Homo sapiens: one gene and its partners. The protein of the gene in region 2 purifies or fractionates together with the protein of the main gene of each other region. This does not show direct contact. Each region holds a gene or a part of one and is shown on either strand. Other genes may lie near its edges.

Evidence for each region.
Region 1: the proteins of CDC27 (region 2) and TTK purify together in Homo sapiens (affinity purification with western blotting; 3 studies listed by BioGRID). This does not show direct contact.
Region 3: the proteins of CDC27 (region 2) and FOXM1 purify together in Homo sapiens (affinity purification with western blotting; 2 studies listed by BioGRID, with this or other methods). This does not show direct contact.
Region 4: the proteins of CDC27 (region 2) and EIF3C fractionate together in Homo sapiens (co-fractionation; one large-scale study listed by BioGRID). This does not show direct contact.

The regions. Positions count from the first base shown.
Region 1 is NC_000006.12:80,007,028-80,011,159, forward strand, and holds part of TTK (dual specificity protein kinase TTK), read left to right. Parts: intron 1-781; coding exon 782-1,004; intron 1,005-1,358; coding exon 1,359-1,465; intron 1,466-3,786; coding exon 3,787-3,930; intron 3,931-4,132.
Region 2 is NC_000017.11:47,181,693-47,187,114, forward strand, and holds part of CDC27 (cell division cycle protein 27 homolog), read right to left. Parts: intron 1-5,422. UniProt on the Homo sapiens protein: Component of the anaphase promoting complex/cyclosome (APC/C), a cell cycle-regulated E3 ubiquitin ligase that controls progression through mitosis and the G1 phase of the cell cycle.
Region 3 is NC_000012.12:2,857,169-2,860,795, reverse strand, and holds the end of FOXM1 (forkhead box protein M1), read left to right. Parts: intron 1-1,004; exon of another isoform or gene 1,005-1,132; coding exon 1,133-2,158; 3' UTR 2,159-3,116; downstream 3,117-3,627. UniProt on the Homo sapiens protein: Transcription factor regulating the expression of cell cycle genes essential for DNA replication and mitosis. Plays a role in the control of cell proliferation. Also plays a role in DNA break repair, participating in the DNA damage checkpoint response.
Region 4 is NC_000016.10:28,731,343-28,735,474, reverse strand, and holds part of EIF3C (eukaryotic translation initiation factor 3 subunit C), read right to left. Parts: intron 3,647-4,132; coding exon 3,283-3,646; intron 956-3,282; coding exon 796-955; intron 698-795; coding exon 632-697; intron 544-631; coding exon 456-543; coding exon of another isoform or gene 429-455; intron 378-428; coding exon of another isoform or gene 342-377; exon of another isoform or gene 311-341; intron 303-310; coding exon 140-302; intron 45-139; coding exon 1-44. UniProt on the Homo sapiens protein: Component of the eukaryotic translation initiation factor 3 (eIF-3) complex, which is required for several steps in the initiation of protein synthesis.

The DNA.
Region 1 (4,132 bases), on a different chromosome or scaffold from region 2:
TTTTTAAAAAACTAACACTGAAGAAAGTAAAAAGTACATTTCAGTGTGAACATTTTGTCTGAAGGTTATTCTTGCTGTTTCTGTTGGTTGGGGTTCCACAGAGAGAAACCTGACAGTCACAAGAGGTCCTATAAATTCCAAAGGTCTAGACCACGGTAACTATGAGTTTGTTGGACCAAGAAATTATCAGGGCCTCTAGCAGAAATTTAGGTTACTTGGAGAGAAGAAAATGATTGTCTCATTTGTTTATTTTTTGTAAAGCTGGTTTGGTTTTACAAGTAAGTATGAGGTATACAGAGATAATGTTGAATGGTTAAGGTTGTAAAGAAGGTTATGTTAGGACTGGAGCAGTAGGTTTAATGAATAAATCATTGATGGGAGAATTTTCTAAGTTAATTAGTACAAGTGGCAGTGGGAGAGATTTAGTTTTCTATGGATAGGTAGGATGCTAAAATTATAGTTATCCTGCAACAGCATAAAATTTTCTTAAACTACATACAATTTTTAAAGGCTACTTACAAAAAAACTCACTTATTTCCAAATGTTTTCTTTCCTTCAAAATATATAGCTTTTGGATAAAGTATACCTTCATAAAAGATAAATACACGATAAATAAGTTACTTGTATTTATATGAACTTTTACAATTTTAAAAAGTATTATAAGGACTTTATGTACATTGATACTGACAGTACAAATGTTTGACTATATTTTGAAGGAAAAATGCAATTTGGCATTTGTTTTATGTCTTTTCTTGTGATATATTTTGTTCCCCTTATTTAGATAACTCGGGAACTGTTAACCAAATTATGATGATGGCAAACAACCCAGAGGACTGGTTGAGTTTGTTGCTCAAACTAGAGAAAAACAGTGTTCCGCTAAGTGATGCTCTTTTAAATAAATTGATTGGTCGTTACAGTCAAGCAATTGAAGCGCTTCCCCCAGATAAATATGGCCAAAATGAGAGTTTTGCTAGAATTCAAGTGAGATTTGCTGAATTAAAAGCGTAAGTATTAGCATTTTAACTATGTTCAACTATGTTACATAATATGTAACTACACTGCAAAGAGAGAAAATAAAAAACATGGCAGTATTGTGAGAAAATATTAATTTTTTTACCAAATACTTTTGCTTATAGTTAACAAGAGACTAATGTAAACTCTTTTCTATGCACGTTTCCACAACAGTTTACTTATTTTAAACTGCCTAAAAAGATTTTTTTAAAATAACTTATTAGTATTTAATTTTACCCACAGAAAAAAGCAATATCCCATGTTTTTTGGAAAATTGAATGAAGCATTATCAAATTTAAGTAGCTATGTTCTTTTTCTTAAATTTTGACTCAAATCTTTTATTACAGTATTCAAGAGCCAGATGATGCACGTGACTACTTTCAAATGGCCAGAGCAAACTGCAAGAAATTTGCTTTTGTTCATATATCTTTTGCACAATTTGAACTGTCACAAGGTAATCTGAAAATGTCAAATTCAAATTTTAAGTAAAGGATAACTTATTACAACTTACTTCCTAATATTAAATCATATATATGAAGTGGAAATTTGAGGCAAAAGACATTAAAGTTGATCAGATGAGAATATGGGGAGAAAATGCCACCTAAATGTAAATGCAGAGAATATCTGTTATACTAGCTTTTCCATGTATAAAGAGTAATCCAGGGAAATGAGCATGAACATTGTGTATGTGCTACTAGTTAGATTCAGGAAACATCTAAAGGAAAGTAGCTGCTTCACTGAGTATTTGTAGGAAGAAGGATATCAGATATTTAAGCTAGAGCTTTAAATATCTAGAGCTTACATAAACTTTTCTTATGCTATGGTTTCATAGCACCAAAATGTACATTAAAGTGTAGCTATGTAACTTGGTGGTCAAGTAAACTATATATCTGTGTGTGTGTGTGTGTGTGTGTGTGTGTGTGTGTGTGTAGCGTTAATTGGTAGTTCTTTAAAATAAAAAAGTAAACTGCTGTAGAAACTATTTCTTGCTCACTTGGTTCTTCATAGTCTGGATTTTTTTGGGTAGGACCAAGACAATCTCTTCCTAAGACATTTTTAACCTGGCCATTCCTTAGTCTTTTCTCATTTTCCAGGGCCTTTGGATACACCCTCAGTCTGCCCTCTGGCCAGGTGTTTCCATTCTCCCACTGCCTTGTTTCTGCTACAACTGTGATCCAATTTACTGCCAGTGATAAACATATTAACACTATTGGAAGAATCCCCATGATGGTTTCCATAGCAGGGATTGGTCACTGGAGAGTATTCCCCAGGATTGAGCCTGGAGAAAATAATTATATGACTCAGAAATAATTTGAGAACCCTGAATTGTTACCCATTCAGATGATTTCTGAGTCCTAGTAATTGTCTTCTCCAATATGTCCTTTGCTCTATCAGGTTACTTTTTAGAACTATTATCCCTTTCTTCTCTAGAAAAATGGATTCCTCCTTGCTTGTTAGAGAAAATTTGGCAAGGCTTCTTTCTCTCCATTCTGCTTGAAAATTTCTTGAGGTATTGTGGCCTCTCAATAACAACCATAAATTTTACATGTTTAGAACATGTAAATATTGAAACTCTTAAATTGAGTTATCTGTAAAAAAGACGAACTTTATCTATACCACTTTATCTGCAATGTGGTAGTAATGCACAGTGATGCAATGTGGTCAAATGCATTGCACAGTAATGCAGTGTGGTCAAATTATGATTATTTTGAGCACAGTTGATGGCTTGGCTGTCAGGAAATAATGCAGCATCCCTGAAGTCCTATGCAGAGTCTGGTGTGTGAGTATTTTTATAGGGATGGAGGACATTTCAGTTTTTACCAGATTCTTAAAGAAATCTCTGATCTCAATACTAAGCTATCTGATTAATTAAGCTTCTTAAGCCTTTCTCTCTTTTCTTGTGCTAAAATACACAATACATGAAATTCTACCACTACTTAGTAAATGTAGATGTAAGCACTATCAAAGATATTTTTAAAAATTTATAAACTACCAGAAGCTAGAGATCATCTCTTAAGCATTTTTATACGCTAAGTACCAAGTGCATAGCATAGCTCAATGGCTCCCATAAATGTTGATAATATTCTGTAAGATATGTGATGTATACATTTAATATTTATATGTCAAATGCTAGGGGTAAGTTTACCAATTTTTTTGGTAATCTGTCCATACTCAGAAAGGTAATTATGATAGTTCCTCAGTTATTCTGCATTCTTTTTCAGGCTGGTATAGCTGAGTGTGACAGCTAAAGATTAATCTGTATTTATTATGTTTTTCCCCGAAAATCCTTTTGATGGAAGATGCTCTTTAACAAAAGATGTCATCCTTCCCTTAACTAAATGTCATTATGAATGATACTTATTATAGCATGTTGTAAGAGACTGATGCTCTTGGCACTTTTGTAACATCTAGAATGCCCTCCTGTTTCTAACTGTTGTGATTGGCCTTTGCTGTCCCCTGTTGGTAACTGCTTTGTTACACTTCTGTTACTTCTGAAAGTGGACAGTGGTGATAAACTAATGCAAAATTACGTCAGCTACATATTGCAAGGAAACTATTTGGTATGCATTGTTATCAGAAGAGAGTTGGTTATCTGCATAAAAAGTGAGAGATTGCTTACTTGCCTATGAAATAAAATACATGAGCCTTGGAATAAATATTTTTGCTTAAGTCTTTTTGATTTTTTTTTCTAGGTCCTGATGAATACGTATCTGGGTGGTCTGGGTGGTGGGCATTTTACTGCCTAAAAATGACAATTATCTTTTGCTTTGTTAGGTAATGTCAAAAAAAGTAAACAACTTCTTCAAAAAGCTGTAGAACGTGGAGCAGTACCACTAGAAATGCTGGAAATTGCCCTGCGGAATTTAAACCTCCAAAAAAAGCAGCTGCTTTCAGAGGAGGAAAAGAAGAATTTATCAGGTAACTATTAAGGTATACTAATACTTTCTGTGGTAGGTAGTACTTCAAATAAAGATTCGGGATAATAATTTATAGAAAAATATTATTTATGTAGAATGGTTAAAATCTAAGATTAAATTGTAAAGGAGGTAAGACTGAGAAGTAAAAAAGTCTCTACAACCCCATGCAAATTTGTCTTTTTTGCTAACTAAACTTTCGTTAA
Region 2 (5,422 bases):
CTACTAGCACACAGCCTTACATCAAATACTGAAATTAATATCCCTAATTTAAGTGATAAAACCCCAATGCCCACAGAGCAAACTCCAGAGTGTGCCGGGCAAGGCTCTTCACAGTATGGCTCCTAACATATCTGAATTTCCTCACTCAACTCTCTATGGACTTTTAGGCTTCTGTGCCTTTGTACACCCTTTTCCTCCATTGGGCAATGTGGGCTCCCCTCACCAGTCTCCCCTTATAAACTGCTCGTCCCTAAAGATCCAGCTTAAATAACATCTGCCCCATAAAGCTTTCCTGGCTGATGTCAAGCCATTTCTTTTTTAAGATACCTCTTCTAGTAGAGCACTCATAACATGGTTATTTGTTAACAGGACTGCCAACCCTACTAAACTACAGACTTTTAGCAGCAGTGGTTCTCAACCACTTTATGTGATATACATGACAGAGATATTAAAATGTATGTCATCCTCCCACAAAAACTTCCCTATCTATTACCTTTAATGCCACTCAATTCTCATCCACTCCAGGAAGCATATTGGAATGCAAATGAGTAAAGTTATCATAGGAATAACTTTTAATTTTTTGAATATATGTTTTCTCTTTTAGAATTACAAAACATATAACCTAAAGTATATATGAGATAGAAGGACATTTTAAGTAACAATAACCAAAGACATTTAGGCCCATGTACTCACCACCCAGCTTAAGAAATAAAATATCTCTGAAACTCCCTGTGTGTTCCTTGTTGATACCAAAACCTCTCCCTGCCCCAAAGAGGAAACCACCACACTGAATTTTCTTGACCTTTCTCTTGGTTTTCTTCACAATTTTATACATTTGTACATATCATCTCTAAGCAGTATAACATTTACTTTTTCCTGTTTTTGAACTTTAAATAAATACAATCATATTGTATACATTCTGCTACGATTTGCTTTTGAAATCCAATGTTTTGAAAATTCATTCTTGATGTGTGTAGCTAGAGTTCATTTGTTTTCATTGCTGAATAAATAATATTTCCATTGTATAAACATATCAAAATCCAAAATGTATTTTATCTATTTTACAGCATGTGGACATTTGGGTTATTTCTAGGGTGTTTTTTTGTTTTGTTTTGTTTTTCCAATTATAACAATGCTGCAACAGTCTTAGATTCATCTCCTGGGGTATATATTTAAGAATCTCTCCAGCCTATCACGGTGGTGTGAGCCTTTAGTCCCAGCGACTCAGAAGGCTGAGCTGGGAAGACTGCTTGAGTCCAGGAGTTCAAGGCTATGATCATACCTGTGAATAGCTGCTGGAGTGCAATAGGAGCAAGACTCCCATCAAAAAAACACAAAAAAGAATCTCTCCAAATTAGGATATATATTTAGGAATAAAATTACTGGGTTGTTGAATATGCATATGTTCATCTTTACTAGGTAATGTCAAATCATTTTTAGTAATAAACTACTTTTGAGATATCTCACACCTGATCATGATACAAGCGTTATTTTTTATTTTTAGCACATACACCAGCTTATAATTTGTTGAATGATTTAAAAAGGTTACAACGGAAACCAGTAAAATCTGGTTACTGATCACTAGCTAACATTGTACCAGTACATCTAAATTATATTAAGTGATTAATATGCCTTAGATACAGTAAAGGCTCAACAAATTTTGTTGAACAAACAAGTAAATGTTTAATAATTCTGCAATGAGTATATTAATTATAATTTTAAAAATAAAAGTAGTAAATGACTTAGCCCTTTCTATTTCCTCAAGAAAGAACAGTAATGAACTTAGTTTGGGATCTCCAGAGCCTCTTGTTTAACCTTTGTTTATATAGCTTAAATTTTATAAAGTCTCAAAGATGTCTAATTTTACCATTCCTATCTAGATACAAGGAAAAAGATGAGATTAGGCACCATTATTATACACTCTAATTGCACCAAGTACCTTTCCTTTGTAATACTTCCCACTGCTATAATTCTGTATTAATTTAGGAGAGTATTTGAGTGATGTTTTCCTTACTATATTACAAACTCCACAAGGTAGGGGCTACGTCTGTTTTTGCTCATTATTATACTCCCAGTATCCATTATGTGCTTTTAAAGCAGGTGCTTATATGTTGAATGAATAAGCAAATGATCTTTAATTTCTAGCAGTCTTCCACTGTTGACACTCTTGTACGTTAGTCTTAGCATTAAGTTTCTTTGTATTCCTAGATGTATATCTAATAATAAAGAATCTCTGGGAGTCTCTATTGAAAGAAACTCTGTGATAAATAGAAGAATTATTTTATTATGCAAATAATTACCACCAAATTACTCCTTTATGAAATCTGGGATTTCCTAAGAACCTACATGTTTAATTTTGCTGTAAGTGAAAGAAAATGGTGAGTAGAATGAAGATACCAAAGATTTGATGTTTGGAGACGTGCTCAAATTTGTGTGCCAGCACTTCCAGTAGTGGGACTTTGTGGGAAATACTCAACTTTTCTCAGCCTCAATCTCTTCATCTGATAAATGGAGTTTATTTATTGGAGTTGTTTTGTGGATTAAATGAAATGATCCATTTATAATGCTCCTAGTATACTATCATACATTAAGCACTTGGAAAACCTTTTCCTTGCCAATCTCTTAATATAAAGAAATTCAATAAATATGTAGTTTCTGTTGCATAACATCTCCCCAGCATACCTGCTACAACTGCTTATTTTGCAATATATAAGCCACAAAAGACTCAAATGATTTACCAGCTATTTTACTACTATGGACCACTAGGAAAATTTCACACACATATACTAAAGTCAAAAAGTCCTAGAGCTTTGAAATTTTTTCTGTCCTTTTAAAATTAAAGAAATAAGAGGCAAGGGCGGGGGGAAAAAAGAAGGAAAAAAGGTATCATATTCAAGAGTTGTATCCATTTCTGACTTAAAATCAAGCTTTGCTCAGAACATCATTCCCTTATCACCAGTTCTTAAGAGCATCAGAAAAAACTTGCCATCTCGAGAATCTCACATACTGCTTCCATCCCGCTTTGCTCAATCAATTCTAAGTTCCTGACTAACAGTGTCTCTTGTGCCGGGATTGGGGGGAAGAACAGATTATTCTCTAAGGCACTACAGATTAGTAGCTGATGATGAACAGGGCTAAAATCAGCACCTCTGCCCAACTGATGGTGTGGGCCTTCCCTTAAAAGAACACCCAGTGCATTACCGCTAGAGTTCTACAAATTAAAGCCAGATGAACGAAATGCTGCTAAAAGAAAGTTATGAAGCCAAAAAGAACAACGCTCCTCTCCCTCTCCCCTAAAAAATGTTTAAGAGAAATCTGACTGATTAATGGGTTAGTCCCCAGGTGCACTAATTTAAAAGATAAATAAACCAACAGCTTAAAGTTGCAAAATTCCTTACCAGCTAGCTATTCTTAAATATAAAATATTATTTAAAATATAAACAAACCTCTATAAGTTGTACTTAGACTTAAATGTAATCACTATAAATTTTTCTCTTTTTTTTTGAGACAGAGTCTCACTCTGTCACCCAGGCTGGAGTGCAGTGGCGCGATCTCGGCTCACTGCAAGCTCCACCTCCTGGGTTCACGCCATTCTCCTGCCTCAGCCTCCTGAGTAGCTGGGACTACAGGTGCCTGCCACCATGCCCGGCTAATTTTTTTTGTATTTTTAGTAGAGAAGGAATGGTTTCACCCTGTTGGCCAGGATGGTCTCGATCTCCTGACCTCGTGATCCGCCTGCCTCAGCCCCCCAAAGTGCTGGGATTACAGGCGTGAGGCACCGCGCCCGGCCTGTAATCATTATAAATTTTTTGTTAGAGAAAGCTTATTACAAAAAATTTGTTTACTTGTTTTTGTTAAATTTTTTATACATTTTGTGTTCTTGTTTTTGTCAAAAAAGCTGTCTTTATTTTATTTTATTTGTTGGTCTTGAACTCCTTGGCTCAAGTGATCTGTCTGCCTCAGCCTCTGAAAGTGCTGGGATTACAAGCGTGAGCCACTGTGCCCAGTCAGCTGCCCTTTTTTAAAAACCATAAAATAAATGGATAATAAAGGCTTCAGACAATGTAAGAAGATACAAAGAAAAAAATCACTGTTGAAATTTCATATTATACATTATAATTGAATTTCTAGGATACTGATTTAGTTTAGATGCACGTCAGTGGTTCTTACTCTGGGCAATTTTGCCTTCTTACTCCCAATTAATGCCCCAACATTTAGCAATGTCTAGAGGGTATTTTTGGTTGTCACAAATGGAGGGGTCATCCAGTGGTTAGAAGCCAGGGATGCTACAAAACATTCTACAATGCACAGCTTCCAACAAAGTATTAGCTTGCCCCAAATGTCAATAGTGCTCAGATTAAGCAGCCCTGGTCTACATGATCATGCAGTTGGATTATTCTACTAGTCTGTATGTCTAACTCTTGTCTCTTCCTCCCTTTCCAACAGCACCAGATAAATATTCCCAAAGTGGTGCTTTTATTACATAATTCCTCTGCTCAAAAACTCTTCTGCTCATATAATGGTTATTCATTACCAATGCACATTAAATCTAAATTTCTCATTGAGTAGCCAAAATATGTTACTCTTTGAATCCATGTTAGATGCTGTCCCTGAACATTTTATCCCCAGCCAAGAGTACTCCTTCACCATCTAATGATCTCTAAAACAGTATCATGTATATAGTACCCAATTGCTATATTGCTTATTAAATTAATTTTCGAAAGGCTTATTTACAACTTCATCCAACACTTCTGTGAAGTCTTACCCCTAGGAATAATTGCTAAATCTATATAAAATCTCTTTGCTTCTTTTTTAAAAACCAATTTCACCAGGTGACTTTTATAAATATTCAAAAAGCTCTCACTGAAGTCACTTAGGCTAGTGTGTCTTTCCAAATAGTTACCATTAAAAATAAAAGAACTGACAGAAATTCTGCCTCATATGTGAGACTTTTGTAAGGACTCAAATATAAAGTAATACTCTTCTGAGAGGTAGTAATTTGAGACGGAGTTTTAATTTAGGCATATATGGTATATCGGACTGGCCATTCTACATTAAAACTTTAAAGAAAAAAAAATGCAGAAAACAGTTCTTCATATTTTCTGTGAACTTTTTCCTATGCCTAGTAATACCATCAACTCTGAGGCATTCCAAGAAAGAACAATTTTCCAACTTACTCTCATTGCTTTCCAAATACACGCAATCTGTCATCATAGTTTTTTTTTTAATAAAGACAGTATCTTATATATCTGTCCTATTTTTATTCTCTTCCTAATTCTTTCCCATTTGCAGCACTATCCCTGATCATTGATCTTTATCATTGTAGCCAAAGTTGCTTGTTCTTCTCACTGTTCCAAATCCATTCTTGAATGGCTTCTTATACTATACAACCAAAATTTTCACCTAGTCATATCCTAAAACT
Region 3 (3,627 bases), on a different chromosome or scaffold from region 2:
GGTTCAAGCAATTCTCGTGCCTCAGCCTCCCGAGTAGCTGGGATTACAGGTGCATGCCACCACGCCCGGCTAATTTTGTATTTTTAGTAGAGACAAGGTTTCACCATGTTGGTCAGGCTGGTCTCGAACTTCTGACCTCAGGTGATCTGCCTGCCTTGGCCTCCCAAAGTGCTGGATTACAGGCGTGAGCCACCGCACCCAGCCCCCTGTGAGAGCTCTTTGTTGTTAAAATAATCTTCTTTCTTTTATGCTGAAGATATTTTTCTACTTCTATTGTTTATCTCTTTACTTTCCTTTCTTTTCTTTTCTGAGACAGGATCTTGCTATGTTGCCTAGTCTGGAGTGCAGTGGTGTAATGAAGGCTCACTACATCCTTGACCTCCCAGGCTCAAGTGATCTTCCCACCTCAGCCTCCCACCTGTAGCTGGAACTACAGGTGCATGCCACCACATCCAGCTAATTAAAAAAAATTTTTTTGTAGAGATGGGATCTCACTATGTTGCTCAGGCTGGTCTCAAACTGGCCTCAGTGTCTTGCAGTGCTGGGATTACAGGCATTGTTTGTTGTTTCTTAACTTTGTTTATGGTATCTCTTGCCACAGTAAAATTTTAAAGTTTTATGTAGTCAAATGTCTCTCTTCTCTTTTACAGTTTCTGGGTTTCCAGTCTTGGTTAAGAAGGTCACCCGCACCCTCAGATTGTATATGTAGTCTCCTAGATTCTCTTTCAGGATTTGTATGATTTTAAGGTTTTCATTTTTTTTTTAAAGCCAGTCAAATTTAGCAGTTGGGGGTTGTGTACCAACTTTAGTGACAATAATGTCACTACCCGCTACCATCAGAGCAGCCTAAGGTTCTTATTTTCATGCATTAAATCTTTGTATACAGTGTAAGACAAGCATGCAATTTTATTTCCTCTCGGATGAATGCTATTATAATTATGCCACTACATACTACATACCCGCATCTTTTACCCCCAGAATTGAACTACCAACTTCAACATACATCGTATTCTCATATTTAATAGATTTTAAGACTTCAAAACGACACAAAGAGGATCAGAACCCGTATGTGATATTTTTGTGCGTCCTGTCTGGTGACCGTTGGTTCACCTTATCTCTGTTTCCCTTTCAGGTGCTGCTAGCTGAGGAGGGGATAGCTCCTCTTTCTTCTGCAGGACCAGGGAAAGAGGAGAAACTCCTGTTTGGAGAAGGGTTTTCTCCTTTGCTTCCAGTTCAGACTATCAAGGAGGAAGAAATCCAGCCTGGGGAGGAAATGCCACACTTAGCGAGACCCATCAAAGTGGAGAGCCCTCCCTTGGAAGAGTGGCCCTCCCCGGCCCCATCTTTCAAAGAGGAATCATCTCACTCCTGGGAGGATTCGTCCCAATCTCCCACCCCAAGACCCAAGAAGTCCTACAGTGGGCTTAGGTCCCCAACCCGGTGTGTCTCGGAAATGCTTGTGATTCAACACAGGGAGAGGAGGGAGAGGAGCCGGTCTCGGAGAAAACAGCATCTACTGCCTCCCTGTGTGGATGAGCCGGAGCTGCTCTTCTCAGAGGGGCCCAGTACTTCCCGCTGGGCCGCAGAGCTCCCGTTCCCAGCAGACTCCTCTGACCCTGCCTCCCAGCTCAGCTACTCCCAGGAAGTGGGAGGACCTTTTAAGACACCCATTAAGGAAACGCTGCCCATCTCCTCCACCCCGAGCAAATCTGTCCTCCCCAGAACCCCTGAATCCTGGAGGCTCACGCCCCCAGCCAAAGTAGGGGGACTGGATTTCAGCCCAGTACAAACCTCCCAGGGTGCCTCTGACCCCTTGCCTGACCCCCTGGGGCTGATGGATCTCAGCACCACTCCCTTGCAAAGTGCTCCCCCCCTTGAATCACCGCAAAGGCTCCTCAGTTCAGAACCCTTAGACCTCATCTCCGTCCCCTTTGGCAACTCTTCTCCCTCAGATATAGACGTCCCCAAGCCAGGCTCCCCGGAGCCACAGGTTTCTGGCCTTGCAGCCAATCGTTCTCTGACAGAAGGCCTGGTCCTGGACACAATGAATGACAGCCTCAGCAAGATCCTGCTGGACATCAGCTTTCCTGGCCTGGACGAGGACCCACTGGGCCCTGACAACATCAACTGGTCCCAGTTTATTCCTGAGCTACAGTAGAGCCCTGCCCTTGCCCCTGTGCTCAAGCTGTCCACCATCCCGGGCACTCCAAGGCTCAGTGCACCCCAAGCCTCTGAGTGAGGACAGCAGGCAGGGACTGTTCTGCTCCTCATAGCTCCCTGCTGCCTGATTATGCAAAAGTAGCAGTCACACCCTAGCCACTGCTGGGACCTTGTGTTCCCCAAGAGTATCTGATTCCTCTGCTGTCCCTGCCAGGAGCTGAAGGGTGGGAACAACAAAGGCAATGGTGAAAAGAGATTAGGAACCCCCCAGCCTGTTTCCATTCTCTGCCCAGCAGTCTCTTACCTTCCCTGATCTTTGCAGGGTGGTCCGTGTAAATAGTATAAATTCTCCAAATTATCCTCTAATTATAAATGTAAGCTTATTTCCTTAGATCATTATCCAGAGACTGCCAGAAGGTGGGTAGGATGACCTGGGGTTTCAATTGACTTCTGTTCCTTGCTTTTAGTTTTGATAGAAGGGAAGACCTGCAGTGCACGGTTTCTTCCAGGCTGAGGTACCTGGATCTTGGGTTCTTCACTGCAGGGACCCAGACAAGTGGATCTGCTTGCCAGAGTCCTTTTTGCCCCTCCCTGCCACCTCCCCGTGTTTCCAAGTCAGCTTTCCTGCAAGAAGAAATCCTGGTTAAAAAAGTCTTTTGTATTGGGTCAGGAGTTGAATTTGGGGTGGGAGGATGGATGCAACTGAAGCAGAGTGTGGGTGCCCAGATGTGCGCTATTAGATGTTTCTCTGATAATGTCCCCAATCATACCAGGGAGACTGGCATTGACGAGAACTCAGGTGGAGGCTTGAGAAGGCCGAAAGGGCCCCTGACCTGCCTGGCTTCCTTAGCTTGCCCCTCAGCTTTGCAAAGAGCCACCCTAGGCCCCAGCTGACCGCATGGGTGTGAGCCAGCTTGAGAACACTAACTACTCAATAAAAGCGAAGGTGGACATGCTGGGCTCTGTGGTTTATTGGCGTCTGATTCCTAAGGCACCAGGAGAGGCTGGAAAAGAAAGAGGGTGTTGATGGAGACGATGGTGATAGGGAAGAGGCAAGGCCTGAAGTTCACCCAAAGCAGCAGTTGGAGCACTTGCACAGGCACACACTTGACAACACAAATTGCCAGTTTTCCCAGTGCTAGTCCTGCACAGCTCACCTCTTTTCCCTGGCGTCTCTGACCTTGTTCCTTGGGACCTTTGGACCTGCTGGTTAACTTAGGCCTTTTGAGGGTTCTTAATAAGACAAGCTCACGAGGGGTAGGGCCCCCTGAACATTAGGGCAGGAAGGGCCCAGTTACAGGTGCTTCATTCCCACTGCCATCCCCACCCTGAGGCCTGGGAGCCAGCCTGCCCTGCTTTTCTTCTGCCCGGCAGCAGCTCCTGTTACAGTTTTTTGCAGTCAGAACTTGAAGAAAGTGCTATCCCCTGCCTGTCTAACCTGAAAAGTAGCCAGGGGCCCAAGGGTCA
Region 4 (4,132 bases), on a different chromosome or scaffold from region 2:
GCGGCGCATGTAGCCCTCGTTTTTGCGGTAGCCGTCCTTCTGGTCTGTAGGAGAGAGATGGGAAGGAAGGGCAGGGAATGCCAGGTGAGAGGCGGTGAGGGCACCAGGAGTGGGCAAGGAGAGGAGCCGAAGTACTCACCTCGGAAGTAGCCCCCGTAGGTGCCCTGCTTGTGGTCAAACACCCGTTCGTTGTTCTCCACCAGGCTGCCCAGCTTCTCGGCCAGCTGCAGAGCCAGGTTCTGCTGGGCAGTGGGCTCAGTGCGGTGCATCACCACTGTCTGTGTTGGCTGGTCCAGGGAGGCCTGACAGGCGCCAAGGCAGAGGAGGGGACACGACACAGATCAGGCCCCTCTGCTCCAATCCCTCCATGGCTCCACCTGCCCGCTTCCCACCCCGGCCCCTACGCTCCAATCCCTCCATGGCTCCACCTGCCCGCTTCCCACCCCGGCCCCTACCATCAGCTCCTCATTAATGATCATTTTGCTGATGATGGAGTGCACAGTGGGCAGATCCAGCTCAAACATGTCTGACAGCGTCTCCATGCTGGGAAGAAAGAAGGCAGAGGGCAGGGGCAGTCAGGACACTTGCCCACAAGGCTGGGGCCCTTCTGTGTCCCCAGGGCCCCGCCTACCTGATGGAGTCATAGACACTGCTGTAGGTGAAGAGGTAGGTCCTCAGTGACTCTTCCTGGATCTTCCTGTGGGAAGAGGGGACAGAAGACACAACAGGGCCTCAGGGAAGGGGACCAACCAGTCTCTTCTTCCCCGACCCATCACGGCCTCTCTGTCTGCTCACCTAACCAGCATGGTGCGGACTTTGTCAGCCTCGGGGAAAAGGTCCCACACTTTCCCATTCATCTTCTCATTGATGATAAAACTGTGACAGGTCTTCCAGTCACCCATCTTCATGGCCTTGGAGGCAGCGACCACATGTTCCCGCATGGACTCAGGGGGACCTGAAAGGGTGGGAATGAGGCAGGGCCTAGGGAACTTGGGACAAGTTCCATTAGCACTCTTTAAGGAGGAACAGAGGCTGGAGGAGCAAACCATACTAGAGACTCTCCCCGCCTCTCCACCAAACAGCCACGTAGTCGCCCAAGCCACTCCATCTGCACAAATGTTTGAACTCAATCAGTCCATAGATGCACTTCAGGGGACTGCCGAAACCCTCAAAAATGTTGACAAATTGTGCACATGTCCTCATGTACATTCTTCCTAGGAAAAAGGCCCATGGCTTTCATCAGATTCTCGTAAGCTTCCTTGACCTAAAAACACCTCTTCCAGCCAGGCGTGGTGGCTCACACCTGTAATAATCCCAGCACTTTGGGAGGCCAAGGCAGACGGATCATCTGAGGTCAGGAGTTGGAGACCAGCCTGGCCAGCATGGCAAAACCTCGTCTCTACTAAAAATACAAAAATTAGCCAGGCATAGTGGCACACGCCTGTAATCCCAACTACTCGGGAGGCTGAGGCAGGAAAATTGCTTGAACCCGGGAGGCAGAATTTGCAGTGAGCTGAGATCTTGCCACTGCACTCCAGCCTGGGCTACAGAGCGAGACTCTGTCTCAAAAAACAAAACAAAACAAAACAAAACCACCTCTTCCAGCTCAACTGGAATGGAATTTACCAACCCTTCCTCACTCACATCACCTTCATGAATGGTGCCATGCCCATGCATCAATTACACTGTTGCCAGCTTATTATTCTTCCAAGCAGCTCACTTCTTTTCCTTAAAAAACTTAGCCCCGGTCAAAATTATCTCTAAAATCACAAGTTTATATATTAATTATGAACTCAGGCCCCCAAATACAATCCTAAGACAAGCCAGGAAGGTAAGACATGGTACGCCATAGTAACTGGAATTCAGGGTAGACAAAGTGCAAAAGTTCTACGGCTAGAAATGGGTGGCAGACAGTGAAACACAAACACGCAGACTCCACAGCAAGAACGGCAAGCTCAATGCGAACGGGGATCAGGTCCAAATGGAACCATAGGAGCAGGGCTAAGTGTTAAGAGTGTAAGGAGAGGCACACAGCCCTCCTGGATGAACCTCCATTTTAACCATATTAACACTTGCAAAAGGCAAGGTTGGTCTGGGCGCAGTGGCTCACACCTGTAATCCCAGCACTTTGGGAAGCCGAGGTGGGCGGGCCACCTGAGGTCAGGAATTCGAGACCAGCCTGGCCAACATGAAGAAACCCCATCTCTACTAAAAATACAAAAAATTAGCTGGACATGGTGGCGGGGGCCTGTAGTCTCAGCTACTCGAGAGGCTGAGGCAGCAGAATCACTTGAACCCAGGAGGTGGAGGTTGCAGTGAGCTGAGACTGCGCCACTGCACTCCAGTCTGGGCAACAGTGAGGCTCCGTCTCAAAAAAAAAAAAAAAAGAAAGAAAGAAAGAAAAAGGCAAGTTTAGGGGCTCAAAGAATATTTCTCTATAGGCCGAACAACAGTGCAGGGCTGATGGAAACTGGCTTTTGGAACCACTGTAGGGAGAAATTGAGAGGCAGGGACTGTGGAGAAGCAGACAGCCCTTTCCCATCGCTGCTACTTCAGCTCCAGCCAAGGCTAGCTCTGCAGGAAGGCAGGGCCAGGAGCGACAGACTGCCAATATTCTAAGACATGAAAATTCCGATTTTCATGGGAAATTTCCCCACAAAGTAAATCTCACTACATAAGCCAAACAAAATGTGCCTAAGGGAACTTGCCCTTTAGCCCAAACATATACATGACCAGGAGAGGACAAATCTGTAGGGGGATGTGGCTGTGGACACTGGGCTCAGCTCACTCGTCAAGCCCTCCTGTGGGCCAATGTCACAGGAAGGGCGCAGCTCAATTCCTTTCCAGTGAGTCACCACTCACTGCAACCCTGCAGGATCTGTCTTTCAAAAGGGGCCAAAGGAATCAACGTTAGCCTCTTGAACGATAAGGCTCTATGATAGTTGGTTTGGCTGGAATATAATGTACATGAAGGGAAGAAAAGGGAAAGAAAGATCAGAGGTACACATGAGCTGCATTAAACTCGGGCAAGTCACTTAACTACTCTGTGCCTCAGTTTCTCCACTGGGAAAAAGGGTATTACTAGTACCTACCGGCATAGGGTTATTACTAATGCAGATTAAATAATTATTTGTAAAACACTTAGCACAGTGCCAGGCAGAGGAGGTGTCATTAAATCAGATGGAGTCGAGTGGTGGGAGAGTTACTCCCTTCACTTCTCTTAATCCTTATGTGTAATCAGGGAGCAAGGCAGCCTGCTGAACCCTGGAGCTCCACACTCACCCAGCAGGGGCTGTCGCTCGCCCACGCGCAGCTGGTGGTGGAACTGCTTGCTGATCATGCGTCGGCGGGCATCGCTCTCATGGGCGGCCATGTAGGGGATCTCCAGGAGCATGGCAGACACCAGGTAGACACACTCCAGCAGCTCCAGGTTGATGTGCAGGTGGAAGGGGACCTGACGGCGCCGCTCCACCTTCTCCTGCTCCTGGTTGCGCTCCTGCAGGCTGCGCAGCAGCAGGCCCTGGCCCAGAAGCTCCTTGGCTCGGCCACTCGACTGGATGTCCAGCAGGGCGTTGTGTGCGTCCTTGGTCAGGCCTTGGCGGAAGGCACAGATGCCCAGCTGCACCATGGTGCGGTTGTAAAGGATCTGGGGGCAAAGGGTCATAATGCACTCAGAGATGACAGCTGCAAGACAAGTCTTCATTTATTCCATAACTAAGCCGGGTGCAGTGGCTCACGCCTGTAATCCCAGCACTTTGGGAGGCTAAGGTGGGAGGATCACTTGAGCCCAGGGGTTCAAGATGGGCCTGAGCAACATGGAGATACCCCATCGCTAAAGATAAAAAACAAAAACAAAACTAAACAAATCTACTTCAAGTGCCTACTATGTGCTGAGCACTAGGCTGGGGAGGGAGAGCAAAACAGACAAGTCCCCAGTCTGCATGGAGCTTATGTCTAGGGGTGGGGTGTGGTGGGCAAGAGAGCTGCACTACAAGGATGGTGACTCATGCTGAGAAGAAAAATAAAGCAGAGGACGGAGCCAGGAAGGCAGTCTGCGCAGTGGTGGAGGCTCAAATGTTCATATAACTACAGAAGGCCTCATTGGGAAAGAATGTTTGAATAAAGACCTAAA